Regions from separate parts of the Homo sapiens genome. Here region 2 is linked to region 1. A link means that fine-mapping ties the variant in region 1 to the expression of a gene that starts in the linked region. Tissue or cell type: lung. Region 1 holds a variant in brackets; the other region holds the start of a gene. All regions are shown on one strand. Distances are between the middles of the regions.

Region 1 (2,753 bases):
AAGACTGCTTTGAGCTGCTGGAATCCCATGACTCGGGTGGTGTACAGGGCACTGGGAAACCAGCACCGAGAGTTAACGGAAGGAGGGGGCTTGGGGAAAAGTGACAACATGAAACAAGGGGCCCCCAATCTGGCCCTGTGACCTGGGCAGAAACACCCTCCCAGCATCTGAAAGATGCCACCTCTGATGAGGGCAGCTTAGTATGGGATCGGGGGTATAAAGAAGGAAATGAAGCACCAGACAACAGTGGGTGCTAACAAAAGCTGTCTGGCCAGCAAGTTTTCCAAGGGGGAAGGGCAGGTAATGGCAGCTTTTGGGAGCTGGCGCTGGCGTGGGAAGGCCAGGGAGTGCCCAACATGACAGCTGCAACTTGAGATGGATCAAGCTGGCAGACAGGAGGAGTGATTCGCAGCAGATGAACTCCCCTTCTATATCCACCACCCCCTCCCTGTCCATTGTCTCTATCTGGGTGGTTCTTTGGAAAATGTCCCTGAAATGTCCCAAGGGCCATAATCTCCTAGTGGAAGTGGAGAGCTATCGAGCGTGGCAACCATCATTACTAGAGGGAAGGAGGAATAGGTTTTCTGACTCCATAGTGAGCTGCTGAGGCCTTGAAACCCAAACTGATTTTAGCGTCTGTGACACGCACAGTGAGAAATTTGGTACGTACAGTGCAGAGGGGAAAGGCGGCTTTAGTCATCTGCTGTCATTCCTTTCACTGGGTCCTTTTGTCTCATCTGGAACAAAAAAAGCAGGACAAATGGAAGGCTCCTGCTGCTGATGGAACTCCTGCCTTCTCAGTCCTGCCCATAGGTGGGGTGGGGCATATTTTGTGTAAAAAGCAAGACACTGGAAGGACGGAAGAATTCTGCATATGGACTCGAAGCCATACATTTCCAGATCTGTGTCACTGGTCTCACCATCCATGATTTCTAGTTCTCTCGTGTCACGGTGTTTGAAGCACCTTTTTTTTTTTTTTTTTTTTGGTAAAGAGGTGTGTGTGGGGGGGTCTTCCTATGTTGACCAGGCTGGTCTTGGGCTCCTGGCCTCACACGATCCTCTGCCTCAACCTCCCAAAGTGCTGGGATTACAGCATAGGTGTGAGCCACCACACTTGGCCCGTTTCATTCATTTATTCATTCAACAAATACTTA[T/C]GAAACATCTTTTTTTTTTTGAGACGGAGTCTCGCTCTGCCGCCCAGGCCGGACTGCGGACTGCAGTGGCGCAATCTCGGCTCACTGCAAGCTCCGCTTCCCGGGTTCACGCCATTCTCCTGCCTCAGCCTCCCGAGTAGCTGGGACTACAGGCGCCCGCCACCGCGCCCGGCTAATTTTTTGTATTTTTAGTAGAGACGGGGTTTCACCTTGTTAGCCAGGATGGTCTCGATCTCCTGACCTCATGATCCACCCGCCTCGGCCTCCCAAAGTGCTGGGATTACAGGCGTGAGCCACCGCGCCTGGCCGAAACATCTTTTTTTGTGTGTGTGAGGAGTCTTGCTCTGTCGCCCAGGCTGGAGTGCAGTGGCGCAAAGTTGGCTTACTGCAACCTCTGCCTCCTGGATTCAAGCGATTGTCCTGCTTCAGCCTCCCAAGTAGCTGGGATTGCAGGTATGCACCATCACGCCCAGCTAATTTTTGTATTTTTAGGGGAGACGGGGTTTCACCATTTTGGCCAGGCTGATCTTGAACTCCTGACCTCAGATGATCTGCCTGCCTTGGCCTCCTGAAGTGCTTGGATTACAGGCGTGAGCCACCGCACCCAGCCTCAGTGAGGCATCTCTTTAGTGCTAGGGACTTCCAGAGGGCTGGGAATATTTAGCTGTGAACTAAACAGACCAGTTCTCTCCTCAAGGAGCTTATATTCTGGGGCAGGATGGGCAGAGAACAAACATTCATCTATGTCAGCTAGGACTGTGGGCTGCTCGGATACAGAATGACTGTGGGTAAGTGCTATTTTAGGTAGTTACAGAAGCTTGTATGTGAGGTTTGAGATGAAACCTGAGAGAAATGAGGGAGAAAATCCTGTGGCTCTCCGGGAGAGGAGTTCCCGGCAGAGTAACAGAACTTCCCTTTCCTGACCTGTTTAAAGGTGGGCACAATGTGGTGTCAGAACTAGGCACAAGGATGCAGAGGTGGAAAGTGCAGGTGCAGGTCTCAGATCCACAGATGTGCAAGGCTGCTGGAAAACAGGATGGGGGCTTCTGTGGAAGCACCAAGTGGTCCCTGTCACTGGCACCTTCCAGGCAGACATCACTGGGGATACTGTAGACGTCATCTCTCTAAAATCAGTTCTGATTTGAAAACTCCATTCTATGTGAAGAATGTCAATAAGTATTTCTTCACTATCCATTAGTTTTCTGCTCAACTTTTGTTCTTTATAATGTTCAACAAATTTTGAGCACCTAAGAGCATAGCTGCTAGAATGAAACTCCCTAGACTGTATTGTTTTGTTTGAGACAGGGTCTGGCTCTGTTGCCCAGGATGGAGTGCAGTGGCGCAATCATGGCTCACTACAGCCTCGACTCCCTGGCTCAAGTGATCCTCCTGCCTCAGCATCCCAAGAAGCTGGGACTACAGGCATGTGCCACCACGCCTGGCTTTTTTTTTTTTTTTTTTTGAGACACAGTCTCTCTCTCTGTCGCCAGGCTGGATGGCAGTGGTGTGATCTCGGCTCACTGCAATCTCTGCCTCCCGGGTTCAAGCAATTCCCCTGCCTCAGCCTCCCCAGTAGCTGGGACTATAGGCACACGCCAC
Region 2 (2,753 bases), 41 kb after region 1:
CAAAGAATTTCCCCATCTCTTTGCACCAAGACTGAGAATCCCCTAGAAACAAGCTGGCCCTGCCCTGGTCTCCCCCATCTCCAACGGCAGGTATACTCATCCCAACATACTCTCTTTCCGGACCAGCCTCGACCCCGGTAACTTCCCGGCCTTCTCCACTTCGGACCCTACCCAACATTTTCTGGCCTCCTCGCCCAAGTCTCCCCACGTCCCAAGCAGTCATCCCAAGCTTGTTCCAAAAGCCTCCTCTTCCGCACCAGCTGCTTGGGCACCACGGTTACTCCGGCCCGCATCTCAGCCCCCTCTGCATGTCCTCAGACCCTTCACCTGTCTCCCCAGCCAGGCCCTGACTTCCTAGTCCTCCTCCTGTGTCCACTTACCACCACCCCTCACCCGATGCCTAAGGCGGCCACTCCTCCCCATCCCCATCCCAACTCCATCGCGGAGCCTCTGACCCATCCACCCGGCTCTCCGTGTGAACTGTTCGGCCCTCCACCTTTCCCCACCGCCGGGAGGCCCTGCCTGCCCCGGTGCGCCTCTTCCTCGGCCGCCGCGGGGCCTCTCAGCGCCGCCTGCAGTCCCGGCTGAGCCCGCGCCCTCGGCCCGCGCAGAGCGACCCCACAGCACTCCCAGCGCTCGGCGTCCCCTCGGCCTCCCCCAGTCCCGGGCCAGCTCTCCCTGCCCTGACCCCGTCTCGGGCCTGGCCTCGCCCTCGCTGTCCCCGGCCTCTCCTCGGGTCCACTTGGGCCTCCGAGGCCCCCGGGGCGCCTGAGGAGCCGTCCGCCCGGGTTGTCCCTCCGTGCCCGTGGGCCCCTCCATGCCCCGGCTGCCCGTCCATGCCCCGTGGGCCCCGGCTCAGATGCCGAACGCCCCGGCTGCCCCTCCACGCCCCGGCCGCCCCTCCACGCCCCGGCCGCCCCTCCGTGCCCCGTGGGCCCCGCCTCACGTGCCGCCCGCCCCGGATCCCCTCCATCCCCGCTGGGCCCGCCTCAGGCACCCTCCGTCCCTGCTGCCCCTCCGTCCATCCGGGCCCTGCGTCCCTCGCCGCGCCGTCGCCCCGGCGGCCGTCCCCACCCTCCCTCCTCCCCGCTTCCGCACGGCCGCCGGACACTCACTACTCCTTGAGCAGCACCATGTCGCTTCGCGGCTCGGTGGCTGCCCGCGGCCCGCCCGGCCTCCCGCCCGCTGCCCGCCGGCCGCTCTCCCCGTGGCCCGGCCCGGCCCGGCTGCCTGTGCGTCTTCGTCGTGCTCTGCTCCGTCCCCGCCGCCCTCGCCGCGGTCGCCGCGCCGGCTCCTGCCGCCCGGGCCTCGTCGCCTCTCGCGCCGCTGCCGACGCCGCCCGGAGCTCCGGTTCCGCAGCGCCGCGCGGGGGCGGGGCGTCTCTGCGGCAACCAGAGCGTCACACGCCGCGGTGCGCGCTGACGTCACGCGGGGCCGAGCCTTCCCAGGCCCGCCCTCCCGTCCTTAAGTGGGCCGCGGCGGCGCTGTCGGTTCCGAGGTGGGGCCCCGCGGCTGGGGCCAGACCCGGCAGAAGGCGGAGCAGACTAGGGTGTCCGTCACCGTCCTCGGTGTGAACCGCCACGGATGCACGCGGGTGCTGGCTGGGGGGCCTCCCCGGTTGAGGGAATTGAGACCCAGGAAAAGGTTGTTTCAAAAAATATTAATAGCCGCGCGCGGTGGCCCACGCCTGTAATCCTTGCACCTTGGGAGGCCGAGGCGGGCGGATCACCTGAGGTCAGGAGTTCGAGACCAGCCTGGCCAACATGATGAAACCCCGTCTCTACTAAAAATACAAAAATTAGCTGGGCGTGGAGGCACGCACCTGTAATCCCAGCTACACGGGAGGCTGAGGCGGGAGAATCGCTTGTACCGGGAGGCAGAGTTTGCAGTGAGCCGAGATCGCGATCGCGCCATTGCACTCCAGCCTGGGGGACAAGAGTGAAACTTCGTCTCAAAAAAAAAAAAAAGAAAAGAAAAGGGCTGTGAGGCCGGGCGCGGTGGCTCCTGGCAGTAATCCCAGGCACATCATGCCTGTAATGCAGCACTCAGGCGGGCGCATCACCTGAGGTCAGGAGTTCCAGACCAGATGGCGAAACCCCATCTCTACTAAAAGTACAAAAATTAGCCGGGCGTGGTGGTGGACGTGGTGGTGGTAGTCCCAGCTGCTCGGGAGGATGAGGCAGGAGAATCGCTTGAACCCTGGAGGCGGAGGTTGCAGTGAGCCGAGATCGCACCATTGCACTCCAGCTGGGGCGACAGAGCGAGACTCTGCATCAAAAAAAAAAAAAAAAAAAAGAATGAAAAGGGCTGTGAGAAATGAGACACAGGCTTAGCGGCATTACACGGAGGGGCACCTAATTGAGCGTCAGGGATGTAGTCAGGGAAGGCTTCCTGGAGGAAGAGATTCTCAGATCTGCAGAGGGCTTCGGAGAAGAGCATAGCAGGCAGAGTGAATGCAAAGGCTGGAGGCAAGAGGGAGAGCATGGTGCATTTGGAGAACTGACAAGTGAGTGGAACAGAACATTTCAGGGCTGAGCAGCTCAATAGGGGAGGGTTCCTGGTGAACGATGATAAGGTATTTGGAGTCCACCCTAAGGGCGGTGGGAGGGCATGTAAGGGCTCTGAGCAGTGACATGAGCGGGTGTCCTGGGCGAAGGCTCACTCTAGTGGTTGGGTGGACAGAGGGGATGGAATGCCAGAGCGTAGGCAGGGAGACCGGCGAGGAGGCTGCTGCAGATGTCCAGGTGCAGGTG

What was found. PIP is the estimated chance that this variant, and not a neighbour inherited with it, causes the effect.
Region 2: it holds the start of PITPNA, and the variant in region 1 is fine-mapped to the expression of PITPNA in lung (TOPMed, PIP 0.96).

Annotation. Positions count from the first base shown.
Region 1 is chr17:1,520,909-1,523,661 of GRCh38, forward strand. It overlaps PITPNA (phosphatidylinositol transfer protein alpha), which reads right to left. Exons shown (of 12, transcript NM_006224.4): 11 at 671-737. The coding sequence ends at 693. Among named protein-coding and RNA genes, the nearest start is that of PITPNA-AS1, 5.4 kb to the left of the region's middle. The variant T/C (reference allele first, on the strand shown) is at 1,155.
Region 2 is chr17:1,561,426-1,564,178 of GRCh38, forward strand. It overlaps PITPNA (phosphatidylinositol transfer protein alpha), which reads right to left and starts at 1,367. Exons shown (of 12, transcript NM_006224.4): 1 at 1,116-1,367. The coding sequence starts at 1,135. RefSeq lists enhancers at 320-419, 1,188-1,687 and silencers at 530-659, 1,140-1,189, 1,260-1,539.